Regions from separate parts of the Homo sapiens genome. Here region 1 is linked to region 2. Evidence: fine-mapped expression QTL. Tissue or cell type: prefrontal cortex. Region 2 holds a variant in brackets; the other region holds the start of a gene. All regions are shown on one strand. Distances are between the middles of the regions.

Evidence for each region. PIP is the estimated chance that this variant, and not a neighbour inherited with it, causes the effect.
Region 1: GREB1 starts here. The variant in region 2 is fine-mapped to the expression of GREB1 in prefrontal cortex (CommonMind, PIP 0.95).

The regions. Positions count from the first base shown.
Region 1 is chr2:11,529,671-11,537,773 of GRCh38, forward strand. GREB1 (growth regulating estrogen receptor binding 1) reads left to right here and starts at 4,375. Exons shown (of 33, transcript NM_014668.4): 1 at 4,375-4,584.
Region 2 is chr2:11,608,059-11,616,161 of GRCh38, forward strand. GREB1 (growth regulating estrogen receptor binding 1) reads left to right here. Exons shown (of 33, transcript NM_014668.4): 18 at 2,630-2,969; 19 at 4,437-4,552; 20 at 7,033-7,232. Among named protein-coding and RNA genes, the nearest start is that of NTSR2, 58 kb to the right of the region's middle. The variant C/CAAA (reference allele first, on the strand shown) is at 4,135.

The DNA of each region.
Region 1 (8,103 bases), 78 kb before region 2:
GCTAGAAATACCTCAAATAGACATAACATGTAGATTGGGAAGAGAAAGTGGTATATTTATATCATAAAATACTATACAGCATTGAATGTGAATGACTCACAGGTACAGGCAACATTGTGGATGAACTTCAGGAACATTGTATGAGGCAGAAAAGCAAGTCTTAGAAAATTCATACAGCATGAGCCCATTCATACACAGTTGAGAAATGTAAAACTAAACAAAACTAAATGTAAAATGAAACAATATGTTTCTTAGTTTAAAAGTTAAATGAAAATTAAGTTAAATTGGCTTGTCAGAAATGCTAAATTTGGAGGCTGTAGCCCAGAGGTACTGAAATAGAATCTGCATTTTAATAAGACCCCTAGGTGATTTTTTATTTTATTTTATTTTATTTTATTTTTTTCTGAGACAGAGTCTCACTCTGTTGTCTAGGCTGGATGGAGGACAGGGGCACCATCTTGGCTCACTGCAATCTCAACCTCCTGGGCTCAAACTATTCTCCCACCTCAGCCTCCCTAGTAGCTGGGACTACAGGTGCAAGCCACCACACCCAGCTAATTTTTGCACTTTTTGTAGAGATGGGGTTTCACCAGGTTGCCCAGGCTGGTCTCCAACTCCTGGCCTCAAGTGATCCACCCACTTTGGCCTCCCAAAGTGTTGGGATTACAGGTGTGATCCAGTGCGCCCGGCCCTAGGTGATTCTTATGCACACTAAAGTTGATCTTTGCCAAATAGGAAAAAAAAAAAAAGTAAAATCTATGTTAAAATTTAGGTTAAAAGTTAAGTTACCAGGAGGCTGAGGCAGGGGAATCGCTTGAACCGGGAGGCGGAGGTTGCAGTGAGCTGAGATTGCACCACTGCTCTCCAGCCTGAGGACAGAGCGAGACTCGGTCTCAAAAAAAAAAAAAAAAAAAAATTAAGTTACAATTAAATCCATCATGTTGTTAAAATCATGAAGAGCAAGGGAAAAATAAACATAAAATTCAGGATGTGAGTTAATGGGGGGCAGGGATGGAGGACAAGAAGGGGACTTCAAAGACGATGATGAAGTGCACCTTCACCAGAACCTGCATGTGGTGCATGGTGTTCATCATATCATGAGTCTGTGCAACATACATACCAATATTCTTTTGTATCTACTTAAGTTTAATACACACAATTTTTAAAAAGGGGTTAGAGTGAGGGTTGGCCAATGTGGGAAGGCTGTGTGGGGGAAATAGGATCTGAGGCTGGCCAGGAAGGGTGGGGAAGTTTGGTGTTTGCGGAGCAGACACCGGCTCTCTCTGGCCAGAGAAGCCCTTTGTACAAGGCTGCCCATCCCAGTCCATAACTCCATTAACCCCCCCAAAACTAGCCTAGTGCCAGGGAGAAAGAGTTCCCTAGGTAGGTGGGCCTGTTTGGAGGGTGTGGGCAGGTGCCCTGGCTGCTTCCTGAGTGGCCTCAGGCCCTGTACTGGAGGTCAGCTCAGTCAGTGTCACCCAGGCCTGGGGATATTTGCTTCTATTTAGCTCCCAGTAGGTTCCCAGTTTACTGTGGGAGTGTAGTTGCTTGACGCATACAAGCAGATGTTGAGCTAGAGCCTAGGCTGCCAAGGAGCTGGTTTAGTTCAGACCACTAATTGTATAGAGGTTAAGTGACTTGCCTGCTGGAGATAGGCAGAGCCAGGTTGGTGCGACTCCAGCATTTGGTTCCTTTCATCTGTTCCACGTTGTGCAGCCTACAGAGAGATTCAAGCTTGACGGAATTTCATGATTATAATTTACCCCAAAAAAGCTGTTTATAAAAAATGCATGTGATCATTTGTAAAAAATTTAGAAAATACAGATGATTAGAAACAAGAAAAAAAAATTGCGTATAATTCTTGCTTTTATTTTATTTTTAAACATTTAATTAATTAATTAATTATTATTATTATTTTGAGATAGAGTCTTGCTCTGTCATCCAGGCTGGAGTACAGTGGCACCATCTTGGCTCACTGCAACCTTGGCATCTCGGGTTCAAGCGATTCTCCTGCATCAGCCTCCCAAGTAGCTGGGATTATAGGCACCTGCCACCATGACCAGCTAATTTTTGTATTTTTAGTAGGGACAGGGTTTCGCCCTGTTGGCCGGGCTGGTCTTGATCTCCTGACCTGAAGTGATCCACCCGTCTCGGCCTCCCAAAGTGCTGGGATTACCGCATGAACCACCGCACCTCGCCTAATTCTTGTTTTAAAATACCCACTGTTAACATTTTAGTGTATTTCCTCCCAGTCTTTTTTCTATGCATTTAAGAAAATTACAATTAGATTAGGTGTTAAAGATGTGAATGATACCGCTTTCTCTCTTTATATATACTTTTCTCTGCTTTCTACTATTGTTTCGTACTTTCTGTCATTTGAATATGCCATATTAAATATGTTGAAATTATCTTTGCTAAGGAGTCAACATTAGCAAGAATAAAGTGGGAAATGTTCATTTATTCCTGAAGAGTTTAGCAAAGATCATATATTCGAGTCATTAATTCTTGCTTCTTAACTGCTTGAAAATCAACCCGCGTATAGGAGCCCTTCATCAGTCAACACTCTCATGGCACTTATTTCTGGTAGGGGCCGGGAAACAGATGGGAAAGACAACTTCCTAGGAGCTCTGGTCTTGGAGCGAGGGAGGTTCATGAAAATTATACCTATGTTCAATTGTGGCCAATAAAATAAAGAAAATCAAGTGTGAATGGTTTCCTTGATCAGGGCTTGCTTCTGAAGGGCAGAGCTGATAACGTCCTCACTTTGAGCAAAAGCCACAAAGTAGTTATCTTTCCTTACGCCTTTAGTTTTTGTTTAAAGGTTCATTACGAACTTTAGCAGTGAAAAAAAGTGTGGCAACTGGGTCATTCTGACCTAGAAGCAACCAAAATACTTCTGATTGCCGCAGCAGACAATGATGAATCATACCTAAACAAGTTTGCTGCCTTTTCATTTCTGTGGGTCGTAATCAGACTCATTGTTTTGTAGCCAGTGAGACATTTGCAGCAGCATGTTTGGGTCTGTGGGAGGAGGGAGGCTTGCAGATCTTCCCAGCGATGTGTGTGCTTGTCCCCACTAGCGCAGTGGAAACAGTGTTCTTGTTATCCAGGTTTAAGCCCTGTTAGGGATATGGCTTGTCCATTGTCATCGTGATGATACTGCTTAAAGATATCCTTTGTTGAGCACCTGCCATATGGCAGACGGTGTAAAAGGTGCTTTACGGTCCTGGTGTCATGGAAAGCCTTCCAACAACCTTATGATAGAGGTATTATTATCTTCATTTTGCCAAGAAAACTGAGGCTCTGGGAAGTTAAGTCAGTCACATAGCCAGTAGATACCAGGCACCCATAAATGTTTGTTGAGTGAATGAATAAATGAAGGAATGAATGGCAACTCCAAACTAATGGGAGAGAAATGCAAGAAGAGAGAGACTGATCAACATGAGACAAAAAACTTGGTGCTACAAGTTAAGAGGTTTTGCACATCCCAATTATTCATTTTTGCAATTTTTAAGCTCCACTTTCAAATAGAGACGGGGATTGGGATGGGATTTCAATGCAGGCGAATAACACAAGACAGATGGAGGAATATGTTTATGATCAGCAAAGAGATCACTCATCTTGAAAAAAACAGATAAATGGGAAAACACTGAAGTGCCAGCCACAGTACTAAATACTCTACTACATTATCTCATTTAATCCTCACAAAGTCAGCTTTGAAGTCAGCACTGTTATCTCTGTTTATGGCTGAGGAAACTGGAGCTCAGGGAGTGAGGGAGGCTGTCCAAGGTCACACAGCTCCGGTGGGTGAGGGGGCAGGGACTGGACCCAGGCACACCCAGCTCCACAGCGTCCCTGAGACTCTGTAAACAGAAGCCGGGAACAACAATTTCATTATTTATGCTTGAATTTAATTTTGTGTTTGATGGAGGAAAAAATGGATGATACACAGATTGCTACCAACAAAACCCAACAATTGGTTCTTTGAGATTCTAGCTTAGTGCAGGGAGAAAGGCAAGCCGGTGATGAACGTTTTGGGGTAGCCAGAAACAATGAACTAGGGGTGACTGGTGTGAAATTCAGTTGTGTGGACCATATTTTCTAAACTAGAATCTGCACACCATGCTCTCCCGCCATGTTCTCCCCTAGGAGAAAATTGTAGCTTGCAGGCAGAAATGTAAACACATAATCAATTCTACTATAACTTGATATATGTGTTCCTAAAAATTATTGCACCATGCAAGATTGGGCAATAAAAACCGCAGGGTTTATGACGAATACAGGCTTAGGGCAACAGCTCTCAAAAACTTCATCAATGACACATTTTTTAAAAAGATAAAAACCTAATAAAAAGGGCAGCACCGTTTTACACATGCTAAATGGTTAAGAGATACATAAATACTGCAGTAGAGATGGGATTTTACCTCAAAGTGCAAAGGTAAATGAAATAAAGTTTTTTCAATGGAAGGCTTGCAGCTCTTGAGGACCTGCCAAATGGAAGAAGGACAGAGACCTGGAGCCCTATGGAAAGTTCTGACACCATGTGTGGAAGGACATGGCTTTTAACACGTGTGGTGACTGGAGGTAGGTGGTAGGTGCTTGAGGCTGGTGTGTGTGCGCCTTTTGTATATTCTCAAGCAGCTGGGGTCAGTTGGGCACCATTTTTCTGAACTTACTTTTGTGTTTCTTGCAGAGGAAATCACCAGGCACACACAAAACCCACAAGGTATTCAAATTGTTCTGTAATATGTCAATCTGTCCGTACAAATTTGCAGTTTCAAAACAAGCGTTATAGCTGAACTGACTGTATGTGGGAACATCACTGCAACTCTTGCTGACCCTGTGTGCTGAAGTGGGGAGCGTGCGGCTTTCATACCCCCAGCCTTTCTGCACAGCTCTTCAGTTTACCTGGGGGCCCCTCAGCAGTAAAGCCAGATCAACAGGCTCACCCGTGAGAGCTCCTCTTGTGTGATTGTTGAGTGGCTCAGTGATTGGGTTGGTTGGGAAACAGAGTGTGGCCCTCAGTCTTCCTGAGGATGGTAATTAGAGGGGGATGTGTGCTTCTTCTTCACATATACCTGGTTGTTCTCTGATTGCTTTGGTGTCTTTTCTTCTGTTTCTTCTCCTGGATGTTGTTTTCATGTTTCCTTCCTTAAGTGCTACATGACCCTTGGATTTTCATGTGTGTTTAAGAGTGAGGCAGAGAAGGTTGACTGGGAGTGTTGTGTCCACAGGGGGCGCTGGTGTCTGGCAGGTGTCACTTTTGGGGTGCTCAGGACAGAATCAGCTGGCATTCTGGAGGCCTCTGAATGCCAGACTGTGCGTTAGCGGCTCTAGTTCTTGTTGGTTGATTCAATTTGTATCAGAAGAGCTTTCGGTATTTTTTGCCTGGGGTGAACGCCTGGCTCCTGGGAGATCTGCATGTGGCCCTGGGGTGGGAGGTAGAGGAGCTACCTGCTCTGTAGACAGGATTTCACAGAAGACCCCTGGTCCCAGCGCTGCTGTGCACTCCTCCCAACACTTGTCTGGCGTATCTGAGTCTCTGCATTTCCTCAGGGCCAGTTGGTCCCCCCAGGTATGCACCCTTCTCCTGTGTCAGCTCCACATTCCCTCTCTAGTCTGGCTTCTGGAAGTTTATGAAACCTGAACCTCTAGTTAGCTAATGGCATCCCTTCCATCTTTTCATCACTGTGGCTTAAAATACCTCACCCCACTTATTTATTTATTTATTTATTTATTTTTAATTCAGTATCTTTTGAAGGTCATCTCAGGAAGGGCCAGGTACCATGTTGAATTAGAAGTTAATTCTCATACCATAATCTAAATGTCTGTTTCCATTAAACAGCATTTTTACAAGGAAAGGACTTTACTCTTCGAGTTTCCAGTGCCTGGCACACAGGATGACACTTAAAAAATAATAATAAATAAATAATAGAGAAATAAGGTGTGTGTTGATTGAAATACATTGATTGAGTTCTTTGGTTACTTCTAGGTCTGAGAGTCTAGGATTCGGTGATTCAAGGGGAGAGGCTGAGGAAAGTCTTTAACTAGATGGGAAGGCTTGGGTCCTTGGGTTTTCACGAGTATAGAAAAAGGTTGCATTAGCCCCACTTACATGATTTGTTTTATCTTCCCCACTTCCTGACCGTGCCCACTAAATCTCTGAAATCTCTGGGCTGTCTACATTTTGCCTGGATATGGATGTCGGAATTGTTCATCTTCTTTCTTCTTGCTGCCCTGAACTCTTTTTTTTTTCCCTGTAAAATGCAAACACTACCTTGTAAATAAACTCTTATCAGATACCTTCTATTTCCTAGGCACTGTGATTGGCCAAGGGCGTACATCTGCATGTTCTCTGCTCTCCTGGGGATCCCAGGCAGCAGGGGAGAGAGGGAAGCACACAGATTAACCATGGTCCTGGGAGACCACCGCAAGCCTGGAGCATACACAGGAGTGGTGGGGACACAAAGAGAATGCCCAGCTCAGTTTCGGGAGGTCAGAACCACCACACAATTGAAGAGATGCTTGAACTGGGTCTTGAGGGATGAGGCAGCGGGAACACAGCATGTGCAGAGTCGGAGGTGTGACAGGATACGGAGGCACTGCTTGTGCCCCAGGCAGTCAGCAACCAGGCAGTGCCAGCAGCACCAACCCCGCATGATTTGTCCCAGTAAAGCTTTGTCTTCTCTAGTGATCTGGAAACCTCTCAGGGAAACATTTTGTAAAAGCCAAGCCATATTTATTTATTAATGGTGGTTATATAGTTTCTAGAGCATTTTGTTGGATAGGTAGAGACTTTTCTGCTTTTTGAAAGTTATCACTCCTAGCCATTGTGGCCAAAAAGAGAAAAATGCCAAAAAGTGCCAAACTGTGGCTATGATTGTCATGTTTAATGTGGAGAGGATTTGGCCAGGGGTAGAAGAGCATTATGTATAGAATAGAACAAAGAGATTTATGGCAAGAAGAGATACTGGCATTAAGCAAAGAATTGCAGATTTAAACTGAGAAGAGAGCCGCACAGCAGATGGAGTTAACACTGGAGGTGAGCTCTCTCCTCTTTAGGTACCTCATTGCTATTTTCACATCAAAAGCCTATTTTTGACAGTAATTAGAAAGCATAGTGGGTTCAAAGTCATTGCAATTCACACCTAATGAAGGCAAACTTTGCTAATTTTCTCCTCATAATAGTAAGTTACATCAATTTTAAAAGTTAGCAATTTACAGCACAGTTGAAAGAAGCATGTTTTAAAAAACCTTGAATTCTTAGAGGCAAGTACCATAGATATTTTCTTTTTTTTTATTTTTCTTTGAGATGGAGTTTCACTCTTGTCGCCCAGGCTGGAGTGCAGTGTTGGAATTGTGGCTCATTGCAACCTCCTCCTCCTGGGTTCAAGAGATTCTCCTGCCTCATCCTCCCAAGTAACTGAGATTACAGGCACCCGCCACCGCGCCTGGCTGATTTTTGCATTTTTTAGTAGACATGGGGTTTCACCATGTTGGCTAGGCTGGGATTGAACTCCTGACCACAGGTGATTTGCCTGCCTTGGCTTCCCAAAGTCCTGGGATAACAGTCGTGAGCCACCGCGCCGGCCGACATTTTCTTTCAGTCCCTTTTACACATTTAATTTATTTATTCACAGGTGGCAAGCTTCATATTGGTAAGAATTGTTACTATTATCCTGGCATGTATAATATTATATATGTGCCAGGTACCATGCTAAGCACCCTATACATACTAATTATTAAATCCACACAACTCTAAGAAGCAAGTACTTTTCTCCCATTTTTCAGTTGGGGAAACTGAGGCACATAAAGGTTAAGTAACTTGCTCAAGGTCTAATATCCAGTAAGTGAAGATTCAAACCCAAACCTGGCTCCAGAGCCCATCATCTTAAAAACTCTACTGCTTAAACTCTCTTCCCTTCTCTAAAAATATAATAAATAGTATATACTATTTTAACATGTTATAAGTTTATATATTATATAAAAATATAAAAATATTTTATATATTATATATTACATAAATATCATATATTAGATAAATATATGATATTTATATAATATATAATAATATATAAATTTTATATATTTATAAATAAAATA
Region 2 (8,103 bases):
TTCTTATTGTTTGAAAAATCCCAAGAGAAGACTGGCTCAGCCTGAGTTGGGTTTCCATACCTGAACCACTCTATTGTGGCTGGCAGGGCAAGGTCACATACAAAGATCATAGCTCCCATGAGAATTCAGGGTCTAGTTTATTTTCTATCTACGACATTGAAGATTTCATCTCTAGAATTTAATTTGTGATTTTTATATCTTCACTCAACAAGTTCAGTCTTTCCTCTAGATTTTTAACCATATAGAATATAGTTACAATAATTGTTTTAATTTTGCTGTCTGCAAATTCTGTCATCTGTGTCATTCCTAGGTCAGTTTCTACTGATCAATTGGTTCCCCCCCTTTATTATGGATCATATTTGCCTGCTTATTTACATGTCTGGTAATTTTTGAGAGAATACCAGACGTTGTTAATTTTACCTTGTTGGGTGCTAGATATATTTGTATGTCTATAAATACTGAGGTGTTTTTGTGATACAACTAAGTTACTTGCACACAGTTTAATCCTTCCAGGTCTTGGTTTTAAACTTTGTTAGTCAGGACCAGAGCAGTATTTAATGTAGCGCTAACTTTGCCCATTACTGAGACAAAATCCTCTGAGTAAGTACTCTACAATGTTTCATGACTCCGAGGTGTTCCATATTGGCTGTGGAAACAGGAACTATTCCCAGCCCTACATGAACTTGAGACATTGTTCCCTTTAATTCGTTTGCAACCAAAGGATTCTTGTTTTGGCTTTGGGTCATTTCCTTACATATGTGCACTGCTCATATCAACTGAAGACTTTAGGGAGACCCTCTGCAGATCTCTCCTCTTTGGTACTTTGCCCTGTGATCTCTAGCTGCCTTGGCTTTCCCGGAATCTGATACCTCTCCTCAACTCAGGGAGACCACCGAGCTTTGGCTGGCTTCCCTCTTCCTGAGTACATCCCAGAAACTGTAGGCAGAAGCTGGGGGACTCACCTAATTTGTCTCACATTGTTAGGATCACTGTCTTTCACTGCCTGATGTCCCATGTATTGAAATGCAGTTGTTTCATTTATGTGTTCAGTTTTTCAGCTGTTTCAGATGGGAGGATAAACCTGATCCCGTTGCTCCATCTTGTCAGAAGCAGAAATCTCTGTCCTTTGAGCAGAGCCCATTTTCCCTACTGCACTTTCTTTCTTTCTTCCTGGGCATTATTATTTTATTTATTTATTTATTTATTTATTTATTTATTTATTTAGAGATGGAGTCTCGCTCTGTGGCCCAGGCTGGAGTGCAGTGGTGATCATGATCTTGGCTTGCCACAACCTCCATCTCCTGAGTTCAAGCGATTCTCCTGCCTCAGCCTCCCAAGTAGCTGGGATTACAGGCGTGTGCCACCATGCCTGACTAACTTTTGTATTTTTAGTAGAGGCAGGGTTTCATCATGTTGGCCAGGGTGGCCTCAAACTCCTGACCTCAGGCAATCCGTTTCCTGGGCATTATTTGACAGGTGCACCAGGGGTAGGTAGAGCAGTCCCTGGGCTGCTGAGTCCCCTTCATGCCAGAGTCTGTGGACCAGTTATACCTTCCTAGACAGCCCTGGTAATGGCAAGCTTGCCAGGCCAGCTTCCAGCTTATGTGACCTGCGTAGTGGATGAAGTGCTGAAGGAAACATGAAGAAAAGGAGGAGGATGGTCAGGAAGAAGGAGCAGGGATGTCATCGCAATGTCAGAAATGCTATCAAGTGCTGTAGGAAGGCGAGCTGGCTGCCCTGATAGAACTCACAGGGTGGCATGGCCACGGTATGGTACTCATTTTTGTAGGTCGAGAAACTACCTTACCTTTGCTACAAAAAGCCAGAGTCAGGAGGACCCATTCCAGCTCAATCAACCCAGAAGAACATTGTGCATAAACTGGATACCAATTTATTTATTCACGTTGAGAAACACCATCATCTACAGGGACCTGGGCTTTTCCATTGGTGCCCTGGGGTCTGTGTGACTAACGGGTCAGAGCCACTCTAGGAGAGCAGGTGGTTGTGGGAGCAGCCACCACCTTTGTGTGGGGACACAGATAGTAACCACAGTTTCTGAAGCAAAAACTGGGATTCTTGATTTGGCTGGATATGTTCTGATTTGTAATTAGTCTGTCAAAATACGTTTAGTTATATTTCTAATAATTCACTGTGATCGAAGTGAACACAGAGATGGGCCTTTAGAACTCGGGCCTCCGGTAGCTGCATTTCCATATTGATTGCTGGTGGTTCTCCTGTTTCTAGTAGGAACCAGAGGCAACTTAGTCCCCTCCTCAGAGAGCTGCACATTGTGCTGATAGAGACAAAATAGGCATTTATACCATTTATTCATCTGCTCATTCATTGGACAAATATTTATTGAGCAGCTACTAAGTGCCAAATGCTGGAAAAACGTAATAACAACAAACCTATGTTTTTGTTTTCCAGCTGGAAAAAACAAAGGACTGTATAATTTGATTTCTAAAGAAGGCTTCTCATTCAGGTTCCCACAACCACCTTCCAGAGGCAACACAACTGCGTATAATGCCGGAGTTGCCTGTGGTAGAGTGACGGATGTCTTGGGTGACTTGGCAGCAGCAGGCCGGTGGGCGCGGCCGTCACAGACATGGTCTCTCTGTGTTCCTTGCAGGTTCCCCCGCCTGCACAGCGCGGTGATCAGGACCTTTGTTCTCGTGCAGCACTACGCGGCCGCCCTGATGGCCGTAAGCGGCCTCCCGCAGATGAAGAACTACACGTCGGTGGAGACGCTGGAGATCACGCAGAACCTCCTCAACTCCCCGAAGCAGTGCCCCTGCGGCCACGGGCTCATGGTCCTGCTGCGGGTGCCCTGTTCGCCCCTGGCGGTGGTGGCCTATGAGCGGCTGGCCCACGTGCGGGCCCGGCTGGCGCTGGAGGAGCACTTTGAGATCATCCTGGGCAGTCCCAGCTCAGGCGTCACCGTGGGGAAGCACTTCGTAAAGCAGCTCAGGGTAGGTGCTGTGCGCAGGGAGGGGCGGAGGGCCTGGGGGTACCTGGGAGAGCTGAGGGGCCCACCAGAGGCAGGGAGTGTCACGAACCCCACAGCGTGGCCAACGTGGCTTCCCTAGACCCAGCCACCCCTCAGCCTCCTCTCTGTGCTTCCCCACCTCTGCCCTCCGCCCCAGCAGCACCCCCACACCCCTGCAGCATTGCCTTATGACTTTAGACCTCTGGGCAACAGCCTGCTTTCTTTTTTCCTGGGCATCCATTTCCTCTCTTCTTTGTTTAGCTGATGCTTCTTTATTTTCCCCTTTGAGACAGGGTCTCACTCTGTGGCCCAGGCTGGAGTGCGGTGGCGTGATCACAGCTCACTGCAGCCTTGAGCTCCTGGGCTCCAGGGATCCTCCCACCTCAGGCTCCTGAGTAGCTGGAACCACCAGCGTGTGCCACCACACTCGGCTAATTTTTAAAATTTTTAAAATTTTCTCCATGTTGCCCCGGCTGATCTCAAACTCCTGAGTTCAAGCAACCCTCCTGCCTCAGCCTCCCAAAGTGCTGGGTTCCAGGTGTGAGCTGCCCTGCTTATTTTCTGCAGCACTTAGGTTGGTGTCTTTCCTCTTTCAGGAAGCCACCCTCCCCCTCTGCCATGCCCAGGGCAGTGCCATGCTCCCTGCCTGTCATCTAGCCCCTCTCCCAGATGGTGGGGGGCAATGGCCATCCCCACAGAACTCAGCCCCCAAAGCCTAGCACAGCGCCTGGCCCATAGTAGGTTCTCACTCAATCTGCAGGTGACAGAAAATGCAAAAGGTTTAGGGAAAGAACAAATGAGTGGAAAACAGGAATGAAAGGGAGGACACTGTCAGGAGAGAGCACAGGCAAGACATAAGGAACAGCTGGTTGGGCGCGGTGGCTTACACCTGTAATCCCAGCACTTTAGGAGGCCGAGGCGGGCGGATCACTTGAGGTCAGGAGTTCGAGATAAGCCTGGCCAGCATGGAGAAACCCTGTCTCTACTAAAAATACAACAATTAGCCAGATGGGGTGGCGTGCGCCTGTAGTCCCAGCTACTCGGGAGGCTGAGGCAGGAGAATCACTTGAACCCTGGTGGTGGAGGTTGCAGTGAGCTGAGATTGCGCCACTGCACTCCAGCCTGGGTGACTCAGCGAGACTCTGTCT[C/CAAA]AAAAAAAAAAAAAAAAGACTTAAGGAGCAGCTGACAACATAGACTTCCTTTCACGGAGCTGGTCAGCTGATAGAGATGTCTTGGACATGCTCTGGCTGGCTAATCTCCATGTTCTAGCCGACTGAAAATACGGTGGCCAAGTGGATGGTGTGCTTATTTGCAGTCTAAAGAAATTTCCTTTTGGTCAGAAGATATAGTTCAAGGAGTTTAAATTGGTGTGGGAGGCCATCAGGATTCCTCTGAGCTGGGCTGGTTGGGAAGGGAGGCGTCTGTGGCTTTATTTCTTTTTCGTTATCTGCAGATGTGGCAGAAAATTGAGGATGTGGAGTGGAGACCCCAGACTTACTTGGAGCTGGAGGGTCTGCCTTGCATCCTGATCTTCAGTGGGATGGACCCGCATGGGGAGTCCTTGCCGAGGTGAGTGGAGGGGTTATGCCCCTGGGGGTCTCTGAGGAGCTGGCTGCCTGGGCCCCCTCAAGGAGCATGTCAGGGGGGCTGCTGTGCCCTGACGGTAGGCAGCACCACTCACATTCACAGGCCCCGTGGGTGGGGCCTTCATCGTGGCTTTCCCAGCATGGGCCTGAGTGCGTCTGAGGCCCGTGCCCCTTCTCCTGATTCTCAGAAAGGCGCTGTTTGGGCTCGTGGTGACGGCTGTTGCCAGGCTCTACGGGTGGAGGCTCTGCAGGTGGAGTCAGGATTTCATGCCTCCTGAGTTCAGTGTCTCCCCATGGGGCGCTCTGTGTGTGCTGGGGATGGCAGTTCTGCTTGGGACAGTACGGCATCCTCTCCAGGAGTTGCAGCCACAGTTCCTGCTGGTACCTAGGCTGCCGCAATGCCTGGGCCCTCCCGGCTTAGGAGGCGTTCTGGGAGTGGAGGCAACTGACGCTGCTCGGGAAGAGCTGGTTCTTCCAGCACAGAGTGGACTGTCTCAAAAGATGTGTCCCTCTGAATCCATCACAGCCTGGAAAGTCTTAGCCACATATCCACTCGATGTCCGCTGGTGTGGGGGGTCTCTAGGCCACCACACAGACATGCGGACACTCGAGACTCAGGTCCCTGGGCCTCCTGTAAGGCAGTTTCTTGGATTGGTAGTGACAGATTGGGTTTTAGAGACTTCATACCGGTGGAGAAGAGCAGACGGCCAGCAAAAGATAGCAAAAGCCGACATCAGTGGAATTCCTGTTATGTTCTGGGAACTGTCCTAGATTCTTCTTTTAGGTTTTATTTCATTTTACTCTCACCTTAATCCTGGGGGAAAGGTGCTATTTCAGTAGTCCCATTTTACGGATGAAGAAACTGAGGCTTACTGAGATTAAGCCAGTCTGGCCAGCAGTGGGCCTGGCTTCTTCCCCCAGGAGCACCCCACACTTCAGCAAACGGCCCTGTGCATGCTGCATACTCATGGGCCAGGGGAAGGGGGCTCCAGAACATTTGACCTTGCTTGTTGCTATTTCACATGGATTAATTCTTTTCTTCTTCAACTCCTTAAGGACTGAGACAATGTCTTAATCTATTTTAAATTTTAGCAAGCATTTGCTGAATACCAGGTACCTTCTGGTACCTTCTTTGTACCAGGCATCATGATAGACTTTTCATATGAAACTTACTCCTTGCTGCAGTAGTATTACCATCCTGTTTCATGGTTGAGTCAATGAACGATCATTTGCTTGAGGTCATGAGCAGTAAGTTTCAGAGCCCCACTGGAACCCTCACGTACCCCTCTCTAAGCCCTTTGCCTTGGTTGTGTTTCTGCTGCGCAAGTCTGAGCACGGGGTTGGCCTTTCCTCTGCTGCTCACAGATAGCATTGCTTGTTGGTGTCCGACTTGATTGCCATCATATTTCTAGCATCTAGTACCCTGGCCTGTGTTCACTTGGATTGAATAATTAAATGCTCACTGATTACATTTAATCTTTATCACAGCGGACTTAGATTTTTTTTTTTTTTTTTTTGAGACGGAGTCTCACTCTGTTGCCCAGGCTGGAGTGCAGTGGTGCAATCTCAACTCACTGCAGACTCCGCCTCCTGGGTTCAAGTGATTCTCCTGCCTCAGCCTCCCGAGGAGCTGGGATTATAGGCACCTGCCTCCACACCCGGCTAATTTTTGTATTTTTAGTAGAGATGGGGTTTTGCCATGTTGGTTAGGCTGGTCTTGAACTCCTGACCTCAAGTGATCGGCCCGCCTTCGCCTCTCAAAGTGCTGGGATTACAGGTGTGAGCCACCACGCCCAGCCAGATGGTTATTAATATTCATTCCCATCTTTCAGATGAAAAAATCAGAGCCTCAGAGAAGTTGTGCAGCTTGTCACGGCTTCTGTCGCTAGGAAGTAGCAGAGCTCAGGTTCAAGCCCCCCCTTTTTGTTGTTGTTGTTGTTGTTTGTTTTGTTTTGAGATGGAGTCTGGCTCTGTCGCCCCGGCTGGATTGCAGTGACACAATCTCGGCTCACGGCAAGCTCTGCCTCCCGGGTTCACTCCATTCTCCTGCCTCAGCCTCCCGAGTAGCTGGGACTACAGGCGCCCGCCACCACGCCTGGCTCATTTTTTGTATTTTTAGTAGAGACGGGGTTTCACCGTGTTAGCCAGGATGGTCTCGATCTCCTGACCTTGTGATCCGCCCGCCTCGGCCTCCCAAAGTGCTGCAAGCCCCTTTTTTATCTGACCCAAAAGTTAGTGCAGCACAGAGCTAAATGCATAGTGGGTGTCCCCAAAGATTTACTATTATACTGAATTTGTTGCTGCAAGCTCCCAGTAACACTGTTGGCTTTTCCACTTGTACGAGTCCTTGGGTCCTCACCAGGAAGGTGGGGTGTGGTCCCGATCAGTGCTGCCTGCCGCAGTGGGAACAGCACTCCACTTGTGGAAGGCACTAAACAGACACCTTCTTCTGTGTCTTGCTAGGTCTTTGAGGTACTGTGACCTGCGATTGATAAACTCCTCCTGCTTGGTGAGAACAGCCTTGGAGCAGGAGCTGGGCCTGGCTGCCTACTTTGTGAGCAACGAGGTTCCCTTGGAGAAGGGGGCTAGGAACGAGGCCTTGGAGAGTGATGCTGAGAAGCTGAGCAGCACAGACAACGAGGATGAGGAGCTGGGGACAGAAGGTGAGGGATGGCTGCCCTCAGCCTACTTGTCCCTGTCTGCATGTCTTTCTTGGCTTCTGAGCTTTGAGGCTGCCTGTGCTTATGGAGACAGCTGTCTCCAGTTCAGCAGGGTCCTGGGACCTGTCTGCTGGACAGCGGCTCTGGATGAGAGGTCTCCAGTGTTGGATGAAATGGCAGAGCTCTCACTGAATTCAGATTTTGTTTGTTTTCTCCCCATCTCTTTTGGTGGTGTGAGAAAATGGAAATCCCTATAGGTTTTTCCTAGTTCTAGAATTCTTAAAGAATAGGAAGAAAAATTAAGATTTCTTAGAGTTCAAGTTCAAAATTTCTTAGAGTTCCTCGTTCCACTCACTGGTGGAATTCCCACCTAGTGTGATTTGCTTGTTTATTTCCTCTGTGAATCAACCCAACAGCGTGCTGTCCATTTTTAAGAAGTGTGAAAACAGGCTCATTTGCAGACTCTTCAAATCTGATGCCGCCTTTTTAATAGGACACATAAATGATAACATCGCAAGGCATTGACTATAGTCAACAATGTGATGAGAAAGACGTAGACAGTCATTCAAAAACTAGAAAGCATTTGTGGAGTGTGTGGAATGGAAGGAGGTGGGTGTGGGCACCAGCGCGGGTCTGTGGTCTGCCTTGTCTGTCTTGACTGTGGGACCTCTCTTAGCCTCAGCTTGCTCGTCTGTAAAATGTAGATGGAAAGGCCTGCCCGCCTGTAGCCATCTTTTCGAAGCACGGCAGAGACTCTGATTTAATTCTTTCATTTGTGAGTATCTGCTGCACGTCTCCGTGCTCCCTGGCATCTCAGGACCCCCTTCTTTAGTTTCACCATCTGCTTCTCTCTACCCATAGCCCGCATTGCACT